Linked DNA regions of Homo sapiens. The protein of the gene in region 1 purifies or fractionates together with the protein of each later gene. This does not show direct contact. Each region holds a gene or a part of one and is shown on either strand. Other genes may lie near its edges. The genes, in order: ESCO2, MACROH2A1, IKBIP, CDC45, MCM10 and HP1BP3.

Region 1 (3,500 bases):
TATGCTTGACAAGACCACAGATGGGTGCAGTCTTACAACTATTTTAATCTCAACCCCCAGCATAGTGCTTTGGCATGTGGCCCTAGTCTTTGAATGATACTGAAATATTATGGTACTGAAAAGGGTTTAAAAACCTTGGTAAGATGTCAGTGAGCATAATGGGGAAGGTGGTTAACTTGCCTTCAGGCTAAGGCAACTAACTGAATAAGCAAAGGTGCAGAGAATGGCAAAAAAATCTGGTATAACTGACTGATTGGAAAAAATGAGGTTGAAATATTAGAAATAAATTTAATAAGATCCATGACAAAACTATAAAATGTTCCTGAAAGACATCAAAGATATGAATCAATCAGAGGTATACTAAGTTTCTAAGTATACACTAGGTTTATACTACAGTATATACTAAGTTTATATAATAGTATGTGCTATACTAAGTTCCTAAGTTATACTAAGATTTTTTTTCTCTAGAGAAAATGGCATTAGTTTGACTAGTTTGAATAAAAATTCGAATAGGTTTTTCATTTGGGGGGAATGTGATAGGCTTTTTAATTGAAAGAGTAAATGTGCAGAAAAAGTCAAGACATTTTTTACAGAGAAGGATGAAAGGGAACTTACCTAACTATACAGTATGAAGCTACATTTATAAAAGTATGGCACTAGCACAGGAACAAATGGATGGTGCAGAAGTGTCCAATAACAAACCCATTTATATGTGGGAATTTGGTATGCATTAAACGTGGCATTGCTAATCAGTGTGGAAGATAAACTAGTCAAACAGTAATGTTGGCACACTTTGCAGTCCTTTAGGAAAAATATAAGGATCCATCTCTAACACTATGTCTTGAAAAAATTCCAGTGGATTAAATGTCTAAATATAAAATTTATAGCTATAAATTTTTTTAAATATAGGAAAAACTTACTAATTTTGGGACTGAGATGATGTTCCTGACTTAAGAAACCAAAGGTCACAAACTAGCTAAATAAAAATGTTTTCTTTGTAGCAATATACACCACAAAAAGGTTAAAAAAATCCAAGTAATGGTATTTGCTTGTATATGCAGAAAATATCTCTGAAAGATATATAGATGAATCTGTTAATGCTGGATGCCTATAGATAGGGGAACGAGGTTTCTGGAAGGGGTATGGAGAAACACTTTTCACTGGATATACTTTTGCATTCTGTGAAATTTGAATCATGTGAAAGTATTACTATATCAAAAATATAAATTCAAACCTTAAAAAAAGGGACAGGGAGAATGTATTTGTAACCCAGGAATGATATTCAAAATATATAAAGGATAACATGCCCAGTATGTTTCCACAAATTAAAGAAAGAAATCCCGTATGGTATAGTCTGGCTTCATCAGAGAATGTGGCTTATTCCAGCGGCAGGAGCTTAGAGCTGGAGAGGGAATGTGTCATGTGACAAGGTGGGCAGGGGCCAAATATGAAGAGATCTGTCAGCCAAGGTAAGGAGTCTGGGTTTTATTCCTAGTGCAACAGAAAGCTGTCAAATTTGAAGCAGACAATGTCAGAACCTATGTTTTAGAAAGAACTTTCTGGCTGATGTAGAGATCAGATCAGAGAGGGCAAGAATTTAAACTACACACATACACACTTTCTCTTTTGTATGTATTTTATATGCACATATATAGGAAAGGTTGAGGCCAGATTAAAGAGCACCAAACTTCTGGTGGGAACTTTTTCTTTCCAGAAGTATGTAGAATCATACTAGACTTATGTTTCATCTATGGCTTTTTTTTTTTTTTTTTGAGATGGAGTTTTGCTCTTGTCACCCAGGCTAGAGTGCAGTGGCACAATCTTGGCTCACTGCAACCTCCACCTCCTGGGTTCAGGCGATTCTCCTGCCTCAGCCTCCCGAGTAGCTGGGATTACAGGCACCCGCCACCACGCCTGGCTAATTTTTTGTATTTTTAGTAGAGACAGGTTTTCGCCATGTTGGGCAGGCTGGTCTCAAACTCCTGACCTCAGGTGATCCACCCACCTCGGCCTCCCAAAATGCTGGGATTACAGGAGTGAGTCACTGCACCCGGCCTAGACTTATGTTTTAAAACGTTATTTCTGGTAGCACTATGGGAACCCAGAAAGCAAGCCATTTCAATAAACAGGCTAAAAATATTGTGAAGGCATTAACCGTGGCAATAAAAATAGGGAAAAAGGAATGTATCTGAGTAGCAGGTACAATCATAAAGATAGGGCCAATGATAGGATGTGTTTGGACTTGAAAGGTGTTTAATAAATGGGTGGGACCTCTCCTCTCAGAAAAAACCTGGAGAAGTCATGGGAAGGCTATTTTTTTCCTAAGGCTACCTATAAAGACAACACTATAGTGGGAAGAGAGTATCTCTGCAGTCTCTGAATTTTGTATATCTGGACTGTTCAGCTCTGCTCAGAATGCAGTGTTTACAAAATATTTATCTTAAATTGAGATAGTAAGCTTGAAACATCATCATTAAAAGTTAACTTTTCCGGCTGGGTGGTAGAGGTGGTGGAAAAGAAATGTCTCTTTTAGTTTTACTTCTAGAACAAACTGAAAGACTATGTTTTGGCTCACCACATATTTGATTCCTTCCAGAAACCTGTGGTGATGCTGTACATGCTGCATTTCATCTTCAGGGTTGGAAGCAGTATATATCATACCACAAGACTTGCACACAGTAGCCCCAAAATGTTTCTGACCAGCGTCCTATAATTGGGGGGTAAAAAAAGAAACCCATTTAAATATAGCACAAATAGCTCTAAATTAAGTTCCTATAACCATTCATTCAAATTTCACCTAATTTTTTTTTTCCTGCTGACACAAGTGAAAAACTAAATGAAAATCTGGTTACCATATCCTCCTTCCCTCCCCCAAGACAAAATGAAATGAGATCAGGCCAGGCACAGTGGCTCACGCCTGTAATCTCGGCACTTTGGGAGGCTGAGGTGGGTGGATCACTTGAGCCAAGGAGTTAGAGACCAGTCTGGGCGACATGGTGAGACTCCATCTCTTTGGGGGGGGAAAAAAAAGAGACAAGAGACCTAAAAATGCAATAAATTGATGAAAGGGAATTATTTGAATGGACAGTGTAAAAACCAAAGATTTTTTTATTTTTACAAGATTATTTACTAGACTCATGGTTCTAAGAAAGAATAAGATTAAATTGTGGAAATTACAGCTAAAATGAACAACGGAACTTTTTAATGAAACCCTTAAAGACCTGAAAAAGCCTTATTTCAAACAGGGAGGGCAAAAATTTTAGGACTTCTATATTAATTATACAATATTTTTCCTTAAGCAGCTAAGAATATTAAATTATTTTAAACAATATTAAAATTATTTGACCCAAGAGTTGACAAAAAATAGAGTGCAGGAAAAGCACAGATAAATTCAAGAATATTCAATGTCACCACCTACAACTCCCATTCTGTCACATAAAACATTGCTTAATGACATTGAAAATACCAAGTTCTGAACTGTCTAATACAGGGGTTGGCAA
Region 2 (3,500 bases), on another chromosome or scaffold:
TCCATCAAAACTCAACTGAACGCAAACTCAACGTGTCAGAACATTTGCAGCCTCAAAATAATTGTTTTGGGTTTCCAACCCTTCTTCTTCAAGTCGACTGGTGTGCTAATTATCGACTTGCACACCAATATGATGTATTTGTCTCTACTATGATGTATTCTCTAAATCTCCCAAACCCAATTCAGGACAAAGCTACTAGGAAAGCAACTGCTTTAAATGATCTGCTAAGCAACCTGACCAGCATCTCCACTCTGCCATTGTCTTCTCCCTGCTGAGGATGGCCTCACTGTGTGAATAACGGATCCTGTTTATTTGTGGCAGAATTAGATTAGTTTTTAAGGAACTGTGTTTTTCTTTTCCTAGAAGAGGGGCCCCTTTCTAGCTATACATCTCCACCAAAGACTTGCCTTTCCCTTGCCAGATCTAAGGACACAGGCCTGGGGTCTGCCACAAACTGCAAAGTACCATGTCTCCCAGAGCATGTTCCAGAACCCCTGTCCACAGATGCTCTGCAAAGAAGGTTTCCAGGGCACTGGGTTTAGCTGCATGCTACGCTTCTATACAAGAGCACACCAGAGTCTCCACACCACTGCTAAAGTAAAACATCCAAACTTTTTGTATTTGGTTGGCTATTTCTGAAACTTTTTTTTTTTTTAAGGAATATCTGTCCAAGGGGTATGGTTTGTTATGGTCGTGTCATAGATACTGGAGAAGGAGCGATTTGTGGGTAGTGTCTCATGGTACAGTGGAAACAGCTCAGTCACAGGGTGTGAATTTGAGTCCTGGCTCTGCTTTGTGACTGGGCTTGAGAACTCTGGGCTGACCTATAAAAACCTGACATTGGGGGTTGAATTAAACCAGTGGGTTTGTCCCCATGAGAAGTCATGGCTAAACTATGCATAGAAAACGACTGGAAAGAAACATTAACAGTGACTATCTTTGCACAGTGGAACAGGAGTATGTTTTATTCACCTCTTTATACTTTCAAAAATATTTTAAAGCAGTTTCTAAAATAGCCCTTAAAATCAAGAACAAAAGTGTTATTGAAACAAGCAAAAATATCTTGAACCATGCTATACCTAATGGGTTTGCATCTGCTGTGGCTGAGGTTTCCCCAGCAGAGTTTGGTACATGGCAGCACCAGGCTGCCTACCAGGCCTTGTGCCAAGGGCTACCAGCAGGACTCAAGCTGGAACCCCGATGGGAAAGGACCCACAGGCTGGTCAAACAGGTGTTTTAAAGGGCCTGGGGAAAGGCCAGCTGCCCCTGGCTAGGTAGTTAAAACTGTGTATGCCTTCCCTTGTACAATGTGGGACTTTGGTGGAACTGCCTGGGAGAACTTCATAATTACTACCCTGTATGTCATGCCCCTTGCAGGTAAAACAGAAGTGGCAGAGCAGAGGTCAAAGGCACAGATCAGCAAAGGGAATCCTACTGGATCCTGAGACTAGCCTGGAAGGGGTGTCATTTGTCACTGGGAATAGAGGTGCACGGCCTGGTGGACCCTCCGAGAGAGCTTAAGATTCATTTTTAAAACAGAGGATTTAAAAGACACAATAGGCATTGGAATCGGGTAGTAAGAAGAGAAAACCAGAGCCCCAAGTGAGGAAGTGGGTGATCTGTCCTCACACAGTTGGTGGGGGAGCTGGGCCTCCCCACTGACTGGACTCTCAGGTCCTTAGGAGGTGCTCTGTCCTGCACACCCCAAATGACCACCTAAATTCAGGCCTGAAGCAGTAAGAAGTACCCTGCCTCCAGGTCTTAGCAATAATTCTCCCCACATCAGATGCCAAGTCGTTTTCTTCCCCTTATACCAGGGAAGGTGTAATTGGCAAATGAGAAATGTGTATTTATATGTTTCCTCTTACACACACAGATGGCTGAAGATTTTTAATTTGTATCTCTCACCAGCAGTTTTGCAGATGGCTCAGTATCACTCACTCTCAGCTCTTAGATGTACCAAACTCAGCTCCTATAATTTCTTAAAATTTGTGATCTAGACATCAAACATATAGGAGCTATTTTAAGTAATAAAAAAAAATGCAAAGGTGATTTTCCCAGACAACCTGCATGTGGTGAAACTCTAAGATGTAAAGCTACAGGCTGTCCTTGGCCTCCATCTTGAAGATGCGGCTGTGCTGCCACACACCTCTGAATTCTAAGCCCTCTCACAAAATGGCTTTCCTAATACTGCATGTGTCACAACCAGATAAGCACGGTGGCTTTCCCACCTCACCTCCAGCTACTTCCAAGGGCCCGTTCTTTTTCCGGAGTTCCAGGACAGCTTCCACAAACTCCTTGCCACCTTTCTTCTCCAGCGTGTTTCCTAGACAAGGACAGGGTGGGGTCAGGTTGCCATTCTGTGTCTCCGGCACACACAGACACTTAGCATGTCAGGTGATTACATACTTCAAATGATCTATTAAATTTCCATCAGGCTGCAAAACAGGAACTAAGCCTTGGCTAAGTTAATAAAGTAAAATTGAGAAGGGCTTTGTCATCACCAGTTACTACCCTCAAATTGCTGCTTCATCTGGCTGTCTCTGCTGCCCCTTATTTGGGTCTGACTCAGGGTGATCATGGATGTGCCAGAGATGTGAAAGAGACAGGACATGCTTGTTTTTTGCAAACATGCTTGTCCTGGATGCTTTTCATTGGCATGAGATACTAGCTGGTACTGGTTTCCAAGACTAATGCCTGCCTTAGGTTTTCTTCTCTGTCTCTGGGGAGAACCCCCAAGTAAGGAGGTTTCAGCAGCATACAATGCTCCCATCAATAAGCCAGCTCTCCTCCTGGCAGCAGGCCTAGAAGGAAGTGTTCATACCTGGCCACCTTTGGACCAGCATTATTACCATGCTTAGTTCCTGTTTTGCAGCTTTGGTGTCATATGCAAATACAAAATAAAAATGGCCTCAGACGGTATTTTCTTAATTACACTAATGATTCAGAATTGTTTTCAGTAAAGAAGGGCAACATCAGAAGCAGAGCTTAAAGATTAATCTGTGTTCTATAAAAAGCTTGGAAAGGAGGATGTCTAACTGCTCAGGACCAGATTTTTCACAAAAGCCAATGGAGATTGGGAGCAATGTGTTTTCTTCAATTAGGGCACTTGCTAAGTAATCAGTTCCTGCTGTGAAAACCAAGTTCCCAAACAAGATCACCAACACCTATGAGAACTCTGGGTTGATGCTCATGTGGGATAGCAAGTGGCAATCAAAGTTAGCAACAAGATCAGCCTTTCAAGTTTGGCCAGAATGGGGTCTGAGTCTTCCTTAAGCTCTGATTCCTCAGTTTTGCACATTTTAAAGTACTTTTCCTCACAAGAGGACAAAATACTCCCCTTAAGATTCACATCTGTCTTGGAAAATTCCAGGTGCACCTGGCACAATTCTGGTATGGGACGGTCAAGGTGCATCGGAATGCACCAGCCCAAATTCTCTTTGGAGTCACCCTGCGATGACCAGGGTTAATTATCTTAGTGAAACTTGCCTCCTTTGAAT
Region 3 (3,500 bases), on another chromosome or scaffold:
AAGCTCCGCCTCCTGGGTTCACGCTATTCTCCTGCCTCAGCCTCCCGAGTAGCTACGACTACAGGCGCCTGCCACCACGCCTGGCTAATTTTTTGTATTTTTAGTAAAGACGGGGTTTCACTGTGTTAGCCAGGATGCTCTCGATCTCCTGACCTTGTGATCCACCTGCCTTGGCCTCCCAAAGTGCTGGGATTACAGGCGTGAGCCACCACGCCCGGTATTTTTTTTTTTTTTTAGATGGAGTTTTGCTCTTGTTGCCCAGGCTGGAGTGCAATGGCACGATCTCGGTTCACTGCAACCTTTGCCTCCTGGGTTCAAGCGATTCTCCTCCTCAGCCTCCCAAGTAGCTGGGATTAAAGGCACCTGCCACCACGCCCCACCAATTTTTTAATATTTTTAGTAGAGATGGGGTTTCACCATGTTGGCTAGGCTGGTTTTGAACTCCTGACCAGTGATCTGCCCGCCTTGGCCTCCCAAAGTGCTAGGATTACAGGCATGAGCCACTGTGCCCAGCCCCAAGGTGGTCTTGAATTCCTGGCCTCAAGTGATCCTCCCCTCAGCCTCCCAAAGCGCTGGGATTACAAGTGTGGGTCAACATGTCCAGCCTAGATGCAGCTTTTATCAGTTTCTTTTGACAGATTTTCATGTGGTAGGTACTGGTTTAACTCATGCAAAGATGAGTAAAGCACTGCCCTTGTTCACAATTCACAGCCCACCAAATAAGATGGTGTGATATCTGTAATAGATGCATGCACAAGAAATATTTTAGAGGAGGACAAAGTGAAAAATTTAGAACAAGATCTTTGATCTCTACTGTTTTTCACAAGGCCATGATTGGGTAATATCTAGAAAATAGGTGTTTTTATGCTGAAATGTAGGCGAAACAAGAGTCGTCTATAAAAAGTATTTTAAAACTGAAATGTAGAAGAGTTGACTGATAAAAAGCAGTGGAGTAGAAGAGAGAAGTGATAGTAATTAGAAGTTGCAAAATAGCAGGAGGTGTGAAAAGAGGTATGAAAATAGAAAAAAGCCATTGCCAAAGTGACAATAGATCACAATCAGTGCAGAGTGTATAAACTGCACAATTGGTTATACTCAGTGATGTGACTCGTATAGGTGTACTTGAGATGTCACTCTAAAATTGGAGTTTATTCTTCATTATGGGTGGAAGCCCAAAAAGCTATCTCAATCTTCAAAACAACAAATCAACATCTGTTTATACAGGATTTGAAATGAGCAAGCATAAAAGAATTGTCTTGGATCCAATACCATTTTGTCTACTTTAACTCAATTCTTTAGGCTCAGAAAAAAACACTTGAAATTCTTTGCATATTGAGTCATCAAAACGCAATGGAGCAGAACCATAAGTACCTGCCTAAACACAGTCCTGAGACAAGTGGTTCAAAAGCTTTGCTACATATTGTAATAACCTGGCAGCTTTAACAAATCTGATGCCTGGGTCTCACAAAGATTCTGATTTAATTGGCTTGGGATGTGGCTTGGATGTTGGAAACTCAACAGCTTCTCAGGTAATCTAAGTGCACAGCCAAACTTAGAACCATACTGACTGACCATGTTTTGTGAAATTCATTTCCACTGAAAGGCAATCATTTAAAGATCCCAAGGATTAATGGAGAGGTGAAAGACTTTTCTGAGTAAATGCAGTTATCTGAACTTTGTGCATCCTTGCAAAAGTGGTAATGCTTTGAATTCATAAATGGCATCATTAGGCTAACCGTAGCTACAAAACTGTCCAAAGCTAAATTAGACAAATGTTTACAATACTGGAGGAAATACATTTCTTTTGATGATGCTGGCTAATTTCTATTATACGGGATCCCAGGTTACATTATTAGCACAGATTGACTTTTCTCCTGTGTTTAAATTAATAGGAACCTTTAAAGCTTCTGGTTATTAGAAAACACTATTATCCTAATTCTCTGAGATGGAAGGGTGAACATAATTCTTTTTTCATTGGCTGTTTCATTTCTGGCTTTTAGGATTTTTTTTTTTTCCCCCAGAGTATTGGATATCTAAGACCAGCAGATAGAGACCTTATTAAGAAAGAGACCACCCTAAAGAAATAAGAGTTGCCCTCCTCACGCCTTCCTGTCCCTCCCTGCCAGGGGGGAAAAAAAAAAAGTAAAAGAAGAAACACAGTTCATTTCAGGGACTAGTTTTATTATCCAATACTCCACCATAGATCTATACTATAGATTAGCGAGTTTATTCAGAATGAAATCATTATTATAAGAGACTTTCGTATGAAGGTTGATTCATTACAAAAAATACATTAATGAACTTTCTCAGAACTTCTTTTCAAATTCAAGCTTTAAACACAACCTGTGTCATGTTAGTGGAAATATCATCTCTGATAATTAGTAGTTTTTTTTGATTAGCCTCTTACTAAAATAAAAAAAAATTCATCCTTGCTACATGTGAACGGTGCATATAAGAAAAAAGTACAAAGCTGACTCAGCACTAGTGATGAAAAAAATGAAGTGATATGTGCTGTGCTGCGTTAAAATATATTTTATTTTTCCCTTATTTGTGCCAGACACTATTCTAAGTACTTGATAAATATTAATTCATTTAACATTAAAGAAGATGATTGATTTTTCTTTCTTTTTGTTTTTTTTGAGATGGAGTCTCACTCTGTCACCAGGCTGGAGTGCAGTGGCACGATTTTGGCTTACTGCAACCTCTGCCTCCCGAGTTCAAGTGATTCTCTTGCCTCAGCCTCCCGAGTAGCTGGGACTACAGGCGTGTGCCAACACACCCAGCTAATTTTTGTATTTTTAGTAGAGATGGGGTTTCACCATGTTGGCCAGAATGGTCTCGATCTCTTGACCTCATGTTCCGCCTGCCTCAGCCTCCCAAAGTGCTGGGATTACAGGCGTGAGCCACCGCGCCCGGCTTTTTTCTTTCTTTCCTTTTTTTGAGACAGGGTCTCGCTCTGCTGCCTAGGCTGGAGTGCAGTGGCATGATCTTGGCTAACTGCAACCTCCACCTCCCAGGTTCAAGTGATTACAGGCGTGAGCCACCGCACCCAGCCTAGATGACTGATTTTCTAGAAGTCAAGAAAATATGCTGAGAAAGCTGCTTCAGATCTGAAAAACTAAGCTTTCAAACTGGCATCCATGTTAGGGTATAAGGTCCTTTATTTCCTTTTTATGAGTCAGGGGCATATTCTAGTGAGAGCAGTTCCCAGTCTTCCCATTTAGATGAGAGTGAAAAACAAGCAATTAGGGTCTGCTAAAGGGTATACCTTCAAGTAGAAGGAAGAAAAGAACTATAAGTAATTCTGGACTTGGGGATTTCTATTTCTAGGATCTTGGCCTTTTGTTGGGGATTAATATCGAATGGAGGCAACGAATCATACTGATTAGGTGGGTGACTGGACTGCCTTAGCTCTGCCATTTACTAAGCTGTATAACCACTTTGGGCAAGTTAAATAACTTTGATGTTTCCTCATCTGTGAAGTGGGGATAATACCTTAT
Region 4 (3,500 bases), on another chromosome or scaffold:
TGGAAACAAACCACATGCCCATCAACTTATGAATGGATAAATGAAATAGAATATATCCATCCAATGGAATATTATTTATAATAAAAAGACACTGGCCGGGCATGGTGGCTGATGCCTGTAATCCCAGCACTTTGGGAGGCCGAGGCAGGTGGATCAAGAGGTCAGGAGTTCAAGACCAGCCTGAACAACACGGTGAAACCCCGTCTCTATTAAAACTACAAAAATTAGCCAGGCTTGGTGGCATGCGTTTGTAATCCCAGCTACTCGGTAGGCTGAGGCAGGAGAATTGCTTGAACCCAGGAGGCGAAGGTTGCAGTGAGCCGAGAGCGTGCCACTGGACTACAGCCTGAGCGAGAGTGAGACTCTGTCTCAGGTGGCGGACGAGGGAAAAGACATATAATCCCGATACATCCTACAATATAGATGAGCCTTGCAAATATGATGCTAAGTGAAGAACCCGGTCACAAAGAACCATATCTTATATGATCCCATTTGTATGAAATGCTCAGAACAGCCAATTCATAAAGACAAAAGGGAGACTGGTGGTTGCCAGAGGCTGGGAGGATCTCTCTGGGGCAACAAAAATGCTCTAAAATTAGATAGTGGTGATTGCTGCACAACCTTGCAAAACCTAACTGCAACCTACTAAAAGTCATTGCAGGCTGGGCACAGTGGCTCATGCCTGTTCCTCCCAGCACTTTGGGAGGCTGAGGTGAAAGGATTGCTTGAGCCTAGGAATTTGAGACCAGTCTGGGCCACATAGTGATACATCTTTACAAAAATTTTTAAAATTAGCAAGGCGTGGTGGCATGCACCTGTTGTCCCAGCTACTCAAGAGGCTGAGGTAGGAAGATTGCTTGAGACTGGGAGGTCAAGGCTGCTGTGAGCTATGATCATGCCATTGCATTCCACCCTGGGCAACAGAGCGAGACCCTGTCTCTAAAAAAATAACAATAAAATAAATAAAAGCCATCACATTGTACATTTTAAATGGGTGAATTGTATGGCATGCAAATTGTATCTCAATAAAGCAGTGGAAAAAAAAGTGTGCTTGGGAGCAGAACCAGGAAATCCCAGAAAGCAGGCCCCCATATATACATATGCATCTTTACCACTGCACAAAAGCAACAGAAGTGGCAGCTCTGTGAAGCCAGAAAAGCTGTCTGAATCATGCCTCCTCCTCCTAAAAAGTCAGGGAAATGAAATTTATACATAAAAAGCATGAGAGAAGTAGCAAAGTCAAATCCCCTCAAAGTCACTATTAGAAAAAAAGAGAATAAGGGACAGAATAACACCTCTCTGGATAATGAAAGTACACTAATGTGAAAGTTGCAGATCCCAGGATGAAATCACTTTTTGACAGGCCCAAACAAATTAAAGCTGGGAAAGCACCAAGGAGAGCTCCTGCTTGCATGTCTGGAATAAAGACTCAAAGACTTTCTAAATAACCCCACAAGAAATCCCTTCTTTAGGACTGCAACAATTCAGATAAGATGCTCTTAAAATATAACACTTGCCCAGTAATGCATCTTCACCACTGAACTGACGCCAACTCTGGCTCTGAGTCTCTGAAACCAATGAATTGTTTCCAAGCTAGCTTTCGTGAACTTCTCCTTTTGCCAATAAAAGTGTCCCCTTAGCCTCCTCTCTTTGGATGCATATTTGGCTTGCCATAGCTGTGCATCGCAGACACTATAATCCTCTTTTCTAATTCCCAAATAAATTCAGTGTATTTGGAGATATTTTTCTCTGATGTCTTTAGTCTGACACTAGACAGACATGCTAAAAAAAAGATCCAAATTGTCACATTCCATTTCAAAACAAGCGAAAAGACATGGAAAAATATAGGACATCTCAGGAAGTGAGATAAGAAAGAATTGGAAAATTAAAAAATTGAGAAATGACAACTATAAGATTAAACACAAGAACGAATATACATAACAAATAATGCCTTTTGTTAAGAGATACAAAAGGTAAAAAAAGAGAAAATTTTAAAAATCAAAAAGAAAAAAAAGCCAAAAAAGATTCAAGAGAAAGTGACAAATACTGAAGAGGGGCAGGTAATGTGTCAGGTGCACACCACACTGGCACTGTGATTCCAGTTCACCCAAGCAGTTTCTGCAGGACACAGTCACTCCCACAGCCCTGGGGTCCCCGTAACTGACCTCCCTGGGCAGTGTGAGAACCAGTGGTGGCCCCATGAGGCAAACCCACAGCCCTCCTGCTACCTGGAGAGGCTGTCCAGAGCCTGGATGAAGTGATCTGTCCCTGAGCCATCCTTCTCGGGGCTCTCCATCAAAGACATGGTGGCAAAGACCACGTCGCTGGCCAGAAACTTGTGCTTGAACCCAAAATGAATGCTGAAAGTCTGCACGCGCATGTCCTTCATCCTGTCATGGGAGCAAACACAGCTGTCACCCTCAAATTGTGGGCAAGCTCTCACTGCCAGGCAGGCCAACAGATGTGCTAATGTCCCTCACAGGCCCAAGTCAATGCTTCCAGCACAGCCATGCTGCTCAGAGGATGAGGCAGGTCAGAACGTCCAGACATACCAGCCCTGCAGCCCAGAGTGGCCGGGTGCCTTCTTGTCAACAGCTTTATGGCTGGCTTAGGGGGTGTGTGGGGTCCTCTCTCACACCTTAGCATGCCAGCTGGCTGGGGTGGGAGAAGCCAGGGGCCTCCAGGAGTGCCCATGGACTTGGTCGGGCAGAGTTCACCTGAACCTGGCCCTGTGGCCCATTTGCTGTCTCCAGTGAAACAGACTGGGGTCGACCTCACAGGTCCCACAGCAGCCCTAGGATCCAAGGATCCTAGGATCCTAAACCTCACAAGCTTGAAGAAGTCTTATTTTTAACCCAAAAAGAACTCAAGACTTCAGGAATGGCCAGACTCAGATAACACTCATTTGTACATTCTCGGGTTGTTGTTTTTTTTGCATTATTTTAGGAGCACGTTGGTTTTTTTTGCATTATTTTAGGAGCACAGTTAAAGTAGAACCCTTCACTTTAATGAACCTGGATGTAATGAAGATAAATCCAGAAAAATGTGTGTTTACCCAAATTTATTTGCAGACTCTTCAATCATTTCCCGCAAATTCTCCTTCAAGGAGATGTCCATGGCCTGGAACTTCTGCTTCACCTGCTTCAGGGGAAGACTGGAAAGAGCAAGCCCAAGCCACATGAGTGAGGTCACCACACACCGACAGGGTGGAAAGAAACCCAAACCAAGGGCAAGCGAGGATGTCCCCGCACCAGCATTCAGAAGATATTCTGGGATCTAGGGCAAGGAGCTTATGGCAGAACAGGCTGCATTTTATAACTAAGTTGGTCACAACAAAGCAGAGGGGCTTTTCCCTTGGGGGTGGCCAGGGCTGGCACTGCAGAGGCCCAGGCAGTCACTCACCCCATGTCTGCAAGGAACTCCTGGAGCCGCTTCTGTCCATGCACAGACCACAGCTTGAACCTGGCTGCGGTATAGCTGGTGTTGCACAGGCTGTCATG
Region 5 (3,500 bases), on another chromosome or scaffold:
CAATACAAAATACTTGTTATTAAAAAGGGTCCTTGGGTGTGATGGGGTTAACTACTGATTTAGAGCATTTGAAATGCCAATATAAAAATACTGGAATGGGAAAACTCTTTTTGCATATTGCAAGGCAGAAAATAGCAGCAGTGTAGAGCCATTTAAACATAATTTCACAGCCATAACCAAATGCAAACATTTTTATAATATTGATATCTATTTAAGTCATGTTAAATCAAATGATATTCTTCAGTAAAGAGACAAGGACAAAGCTAAAATTTATTAGAAATTCTCCTGTTCTTCAAAGCAAACTCAAACAAACTGACATATACCTACTTTTAGATTTATGTAAAAAACAGATTCTTGGCTGGGTACGGGCATGGTGGCTCACGCCTGTAATCCCAGCACTTTGGGAGGCCAAGGCTGGAGGATCACTTGAGGTCAGGAGTTAGAGATCAGCCTGGCCAACACGGTGAAACTCTGTCCCTACTAAAAACACAAAAATTTGCTTCGTGTGGTGGCAGGCACCTGTAATCCCAGCTACTTGGGAGGCTGAGGCAGGAGAATCGCTTGAACCTGGGAGGCGGAGCTTGCATTGAGCCGAGATGGCGCCACTGCACTTCAGCCTGGGCCACAGACTGAGACTCTGTCTCAGAAAAACAAAATAAAACAAACAACACATTCTTGGTCCTACAGCTAGCACCTTGGCTTTGAAGGACATCGGACATCAACACCATCCTTGAGCTTTTGGGCTCTTACCTCTTTCAGGATGCCTGTGTGTTTTGATTTTGCTTTTAGGATTTTCTGAAATTCCTCAGATTCCAGATAGGCAAGTTGTTCTCTCCTTTTTTTCCTGGCAGGCTCCAATTCATCCTCAGCTAGGGCACAAGGAACAAACATTAGCAGCGACCAAGAAATTTCAGAAAGCCAGTGCGCCTCATCAACTCTACTCCCTCCCACTCCCTCCTCCTCTGCCTACCAGCCCTTCAAACTTGACCTACCCCCGCTGGTCCCAGCAGGGAAAAGCTCTCAGAGGTGAGCCAAGAAGCTGAGCCTAGAATGTGGGGTGGTGGCAGATTTTACCACTAAATAGAATCTCTTTTTCACCTTCAAATAGGCAGCTGACGATAGTAACAGATAACAACAGTGTAAATAATGTTGACAATTATGTTAAAATGATATTGCCAACTTCAGAGTTTTAAAAATAAAGATATGGCAATTTAAAACAAAGGAATTCTAGTTCTGTCAAAGTAAATCTTTATGCTAATATATATATGTACAAAGATCCAATGAGCAATCCTATTCCCAAGTATTCAAATTGTGCCCAATTTCATTCCAATTTAATGTAATTATAAAAAAATCAGTTCCAGCTCACGTCTGTAATCCCAGCACTTTGGGAGGTCAAGGCGGGCGGATCATGAGGTCAAGAGATCGAGGCCATCCTGGCCAACATGGTGAAACCCCATCTATACTAAAAATACAAAAAATTAGCTGGGCGTGGTGGCGCGCGCTTGTAGTCCCACTTACTCGTGAGGCTGAGGCAGGAGGATCGCTTGAACCCAGGAGGCAGAGGCTGTAGCGAGCCAAGACTGCGCCACTGCACTCTAGCCTGGCAACAGAGCAAGACTCCATGAAAAAAAAAAAAAAAATCAGTTCCACCCATAGAAATTCTATTTAGGTATTCTATATAGGAGGAAATGGAAGTAATTGCTTGATATCTGGGTGCTGGTTTGGGTTTAGAACATATTTCCCTTAGAAACAGTTTCTCTTTCCCACTGTTAACTGTGAAACTGCAGTACCTTGAGAAGAAAACATGGTGTTTTTTTCTACACGTTCCTTCACCTCCAGGATGTCCTGAGGGTCCTTTTGTTTCTTCTTAATGCTGTTTGGGTTTGTTTTTGTAAGAACCTGGCCTTTTGCCCTTAATTTGGTGATAGCAGCTAACTAGAAAAAAGGGAATGAGAGGGAGGTAAAGATCTAAAAGATGACAGAGGCACTTATAGACCTGGATCCCTTTTTTATTAGTAACCAGTGAATTCTGGCTGTTCTCTGACAGAAATTGGCAGAACATATCTTAATTTTACTTAGTATTATTAACACAATTACTAGAATATAATAGCATGGGAGACAGGTCTATATGTTGATGAATAAAATCTTAGTTTATTTAAATATAACAAGTTTGACATCAGCAAGACTGCAGGCTTCCAGATCCATAAAGGAGCCACATCACCATTTTGGAAGTTTTAGAATCAGAGAGAATTAAGATAAAGTTCCAGCCAGCTCTGCCACGGACTAGCTTGTAACCCAAGGAAAATTACTTAATTTTTCAAGTATAAAATGGAAATGGGGCTTGGCATGGTAGCTCATTGTAAACCCAGCACTTTGGGAGGCTGAAGCAGGTGGATTTCTTGAGCTCGGGAGTTTAAAACCAGCCTGAGCAACACAGTGAGACTTCATCTGGGCATGGTACAAAATTAGCTGGGCATGGTAGTGCATGCCTGTAGTCCCAGCTACTCAGGGGACTGAGATGGGAGGATCACCTGAGCCCAGGGAGATGGAGGTTTCAGTGAGCTGTGATTGCACCACTGTACACCAGCCTGGGAGACAGAGTGAGACCCTGTCTCAAAACAAACACACAAAAAAAGAGAAGGAAATGATGATATAGCATTGACCTACCTTTGAAGGTCATGGTTGTATGGATGAAATAAGATAATATCTGCAAAGTATGAATCTTTACATAGCAAATACATTCCTGGCCGGGCGCAGTGGCTCATGCCTGTAATCCCAGCACTTTGGGAGGCTGAGGCAGGTGGATCACTTGAGGTCAGGAGTTCGAAACCAGCCTGGCCAACATGGTGAAACCCTGTCTCTTCTAAAAATACAAAAATTAGTCAGGCATGGTGGTGGGCACCTGTAATCCCAGCAATTCGGGAGGCTGAGGCAAGAGAATTGATTGAACCCAGGAGGCAGAGGATGCAGTGAGGCGAGATCGGACTACTGTATTCCAGCCTGGGTGACAGAGCGAGACTCCATCTCAAAAAATATATATATAAATAAATAAATAAACATAGTAAATACATGGCACACACATATCACAAGTACTGAGTAATATGGACATGTGCCATGGTTATTGTAGGTATTCCTGTTGTTATTATTATAGGTAAGGTTTTGGCATACAGCAAGCTTTGCCCTTCATTTGGCTGCAGCTGCTAACTTAAGGGAAGAGAGAGGCTCGATTGGGGCACTCAGGAAGTGGGCAGGTGGGGCTCTGGGTGCCCTACCCCTACTTCAGCCGCAGCAACTCAGCTTTCACCTGTCATGGGACTGGACTTTTGTGTAAGATTTCTTTTAAAGGATTCTTGGTTAGGCACAGTGGCTCATGCCTGTAGTCCCAGCACTTTGGGAGGCTGAGGTGGGACTGCTTGAGTCCAGGAGTGCAAGACCAGCTTGGGCAGCAAAGGGAGGCCCCCATCTCTACAAAAAATACAAAAATTAGCCAAGGCGTGGTG
Region 6 (3,500 bases), on another chromosome or scaffold:
GCAATTATTATTTCTGTTATTCCTTTTTGTTTTCAGACAGGGTCTCACTCTCACCGAGGCTGGAGTGGTGAGATCGTAACTCACAATAGCCTCAACCTCCCAGGCTCAAGCGGTCCTCCTGCCTCTGCCTTCCAAGTACCTGGGACTAGAGGCATGTGTCACCAAACCCTGCTGATTTTGTATTTTTTGTAGAGAAGGGGTCTTGCTATGTTGCCCAGGCTGGTCTCGAACTCCTGGGCTCAAGTGATCCTCCCAACTAAGCCTCCCAAGGTGCTGGGACTACAGGTGTAGGCCACCATCCCTAGCCTCATTTTTGCTGTTTCAGTAGTAGGATTCCTTACCTCTTTTTCATGTTCAGTGCTACATGATTTCAAGCACAAGCAGCCCCCCAAAAAATATCCAATTAAGAGCAAAGTAAGCTAGAAAAAAGTTACACTATCTTAATGGCACCAGCATTTTCGAAACCTAGCCTCAGATAATTCAACTAGGTTAAACTTAAGGAATTTCATCATCATGAAACTTATTTTTAACAAAAAAGGCACAAAAAGCCTAAATGTTACTAACTGTAGACTTAAAGCTAATACACAATGAAATGATCTTACTACTAACAATTGTGTAATACCTGTTTGATGACTCCTCTATTTAATTCTCTTTTCAGTGCTTGTTTAAGGAGATAACCCCTTCTCTCCAGCTCCAGAGAAGGATACTTATGGATGATGTATTTTCGAATAGCAACCACTGATGCACCACTCTTCTGGAAGCATGCCTAGAAAAGATTTATTAAACTAGTTGTTTTTTTTTATTAGATAGAGCCTGACATATATTTTCAAAATAAATTATTTTGGAAGTGAATTTGATGATAGATGACAAAAACGGTAGGGAAGAATGAACTTCAGAAGACTTCAGTTCATAATGACTACAGAGAAGTAACAGAATTACTAAATATTTCTACTACAATTTTAAATTGTTCAAAACAGCCTAAGAGACCATACTGAACACGAACAACATTCTATGTATAATGAAGAACCTCTTTCCATTTTAATTCCATTCTGTATTTAGAAGATGAATCTTTGGCATCAAAATGAGAAAAGCAGAACAAACCTATCACTTACAGGATCACAGATCTGTCCCATTTTAAGGCACGAGCTTAAGGAATGAGCATGCCAGGACATTTCCCTGAAGGCTCTGTATGAATGTCAGCAGAAAGAAGAATCAAAGATAATCTGAATAAGTGGCATAAAAATGGGTTTACAGATGGCAAAGTGCTGAAGGAGAGTTTTGGGTAATAGTGAAGGTGTTCTATTTGAATTTAATGTGCCCTCTTCCATTTCCATCCTATTTTACTTATACTCCATTTGACTAATGCACCTGGAAGAATTAAGTAGCTCATTATGTCACAAAGGCAGCAAATACTTAATTTTTTTCAAATGCTTAAAATTTTGTTTTCCAACTGGTCACTGACTTGAAATCAAATACTTTAAATTTTGAAACACACAAAAGTAGCATCTGTCATTTATCTAATGAGCTAGTCCATCAATTTTGTACTGCCACAGTGTCTATTAAATCAATGTAGCACTTATTCATTCTCATTGGATAAGAACTTCGTTGAATGTTTTTATACATTTTGACAACAAAGAAAAATAACTCACAGGTAGATGGTCCAGAAAAGATTGCACAACACGAAACAAGTTGTATTAATATGGGTCATGTAATTCAAGTCTATGTCTCTGAACTATTAATGACCTACTGAGGTTTACTCCTGATCTTAAAAGAAAACACAGAGCAAAGAAAATCAAGCAGAAAAGAACACTAATGCTGAAACAAATAATCTTTTGCTCCACCAATCCGACAGTGAGATGGTAGTAGACATCATGATTCCTGTTCAATACAGAAAATGGTATCCATGGTCTGAAACAATAATTTGTCATATTGCATGGAATACACATTATCTATATAAAATCAATCATCTCCATAAATATGCACAATTATATTCAAACCATTCTTTAAGCCAAATTGATATTGTTTTAATTTTTTATTTCACTATTTTAAAGTTTCAGCCCTTTTTCCATCCTCACTATGATGCTGCTCCTTCAAACCCAGGCTGAGTGGTCATCAAGTGAAATCCTTGAAGAAAGGCTATACAAAGAACAGAGATTTCACTACAGTGAGGTAATCTAGACCAATAAAGTTTTCTTAATGAGGTGAGAGCATAAGAAGTCTTGAAGGAGTAAAGGGAGAAGTCTGAAGGCAAACCCTTTTTCCAGTTTATGTGTTAGTGCTATCTTCTCATATTCTGAGAATGACAACCAGGCTGCTCCTTTTCGTACACATCCCCCCTTTTCTGGTTAAAATCATCTGTATCCCTGTCTCCCCAGTCCTGCCTCAGATCCTAACAACAGGGTCCCTGAAAGATGGGTCTGTTCTAACTCCTCTTATCATCTGATCATATGAACTAAACAAGGCAAAATTAAATGAAAAGACTTATACAATAAAGGCAATGTCAAATTAGAAGATAACCTTTAAAAATTAAAATAGGAAAACTACATCTAATGAAAGTCAATGAAATCATAAATCTATGTAAGGAGGATAATTTTTGTAAGCATTTTGGAATGTCTAGGTAATAAAGCAGTGTTTATTAACAGGGTTCAGGTGTGAAAGATAACCACTACCAAGATCACTTAGCTTTAGAAATGAACCTAGAGATATTTTTTAAACAAAAATTCTCAATATTTTTCAGTTACTGAGTCACAATTAGATTTATAAGGGCAAGGACTTTGCTAGCCTTAGTTAATTCACCACTAGCAGGGGCGCCCAACAGAGGAAGGTAGTCCTTAAATGTTTGTTCAATGAATTAACATTTTCAGCCTTCAAATAAAAACTGTACTTAATCGATAAACTGCATTTAAAAATTCTAAAGTTAAAATATTTGCTATATTAAATATAATTTTTTTAAAAAAATTAACAGTGTTCACCAAATGTGATTATATTAGAAAAACATGAACTTATAATGACTTTCCTCTCTTTAAAACTCCTTTAGGAAGCAGAACAAGATTTATGATGTCTAGACAGATATATGCCATTTTCAAATAAGAAAAAAATGAACATAATAAATCTAAGATGAATTGCTTGAAATAAAAACTTGCCTTAATGGCCTCAGTTAAGATTGCATCCATCTTGGGACGTGGGGAAGAAGCCATCGGTGTTTGTTTCTGGGCCCTGGCTAGCTGGCTGGCAGAAAGGGTAGCCCAGGAAGGAATTGTTTTTTTCACTTTCTTCTCCTTTTCTTTAGACTGATCTTTCTCACTTTAAAACAAAGAATTGTTATTATAGAAGATAAGCTCTCTAGAAAGACGTATAAAGTCAGAAGGAGGAAAAGACCAGGGAGGGATAAAAATTAATGCTTTAATTTATTTACAGGCTAAGATGACATGTACCATAAGCAAAATTTTACAAAATAAATCTTCTTTAAAAACTGGGTACTATAAATGAATTAAAAAGGT

The links.
Region 2: the proteins of ESCO2 (region 1) and MACROH2A1 purify together in Homo sapiens (affinity purification with mass spectrometry, with the first as the bait; one large-scale study listed by BioGRID). This does not show direct contact.
Region 3: the proteins of ESCO2 (region 1) and IKBIP purify together in Homo sapiens (affinity purification with mass spectrometry; one large-scale study listed by BioGRID and IntAct). This does not show direct contact.
Region 4: the proteins of ESCO2 (region 1) and CDC45 purify together in Homo sapiens (affinity purification with western blotting, with the first as the bait; one study listed by BioGRID). This does not show direct contact.
Region 5: the proteins of ESCO2 (region 1) and MCM10 purify together in Homo sapiens (affinity purification with mass spectrometry, with the first as the bait; one large-scale study listed by BioGRID). This does not show direct contact.
Region 6: the proteins of ESCO2 (region 1) and HP1BP3 purify together in Homo sapiens (affinity purification with mass spectrometry, with the first as the bait; one large-scale study listed by BioGRID). This does not show direct contact.

The regions. Positions count from the first base shown.
Region 1 is NC_000008.11:27,788,054-27,791,553, reverse strand, and holds part of ESCO2 (N-acetyltransferase ESCO2), read right to left. Parts: intron 2,708-3,500; coding exon 2,576-2,707; intron 1-2,575. UniProt on the Homo sapiens protein: Acetyltransferase required for the establishment of sister chromatid cohesion. Couples the processes of cohesion and DNA replication to ensure that only sister chromatids become paired together.
Region 2 is NC_000005.10:135,343,732-135,347,231, forward strand, and holds part of MACROH2A1 (core histone macro-H2A.1), read right to left. Parts: intron 2,327-3,500; coding exon 2,237-2,326; intron 950-2,236; exon of another isoform or gene 1-949. UniProt on the Homo sapiens protein: Variant histone H2A which replaces conventional H2A in a subset of nucleosomes where it represses transcription. Nucleosomes wrap and compact DNA into chromatin, limiting DNA accessibility to the cellular machineries which require DNA as a template.
Region 3 is NC_000012.12:98,634,789-98,638,288, forward strand, and holds part of IKBIP (inhibitor of nuclear factor kappa-B kinase-interacting protein), read right to left. Parts: intron 1-3,500. UniProt on the Homo sapiens protein: Target of p53/TP53 with pro-apoptotic function.
Region 4 is NC_000022.11:19,507,420-19,510,919, reverse strand, and holds part of CDC45 (cell division control protein 45 homolog), read right to left. Parts: coding exon 3,403-3,500; intron 3,155-3,402; coding exon 3,056-3,154; intron 2,391-3,055; coding exon 2,229-2,390; intron 1-2,228. UniProt on the Homo sapiens protein: Required for initiation of chromosomal DNA replication. Core component of CDC45-MCM-GINS (CMG) helicase, the molecular machine that unwinds template DNA during replication, and around which the replisome is built.
Region 5 is NC_000010.11:13,196,058-13,199,557, reverse strand, and holds part of MCM10 (protein MCM10 homolog), read right to left. Parts: intron 1,936-3,500; coding exon 1,791-1,935; intron 870-1,790; coding exon 751-869; intron 1-750. UniProt on the Homo sapiens protein: Acts as a replication initiation factor that brings together the MCM2-7 helicase and the DNA polymerase alpha/primase complex in order to initiate DNA replication. Additionally, plays a role in preventing DNA damage during replication.
Region 6 is NC_000001.11:20,770,308-20,773,807, forward strand, and holds part of HP1BP3 (heterochromatin protein 1-binding protein 3), read right to left. Parts: intron 3,304-3,500; coding exon 3,144-3,303; intron 767-3,143; coding exon 623-766; intron 1-622. UniProt on the Homo sapiens protein: Component of heterochromatin that maintains heterochromatin integrity during G1/S progression and regulates the duration of G1 phase to critically influence cell proliferative capacity.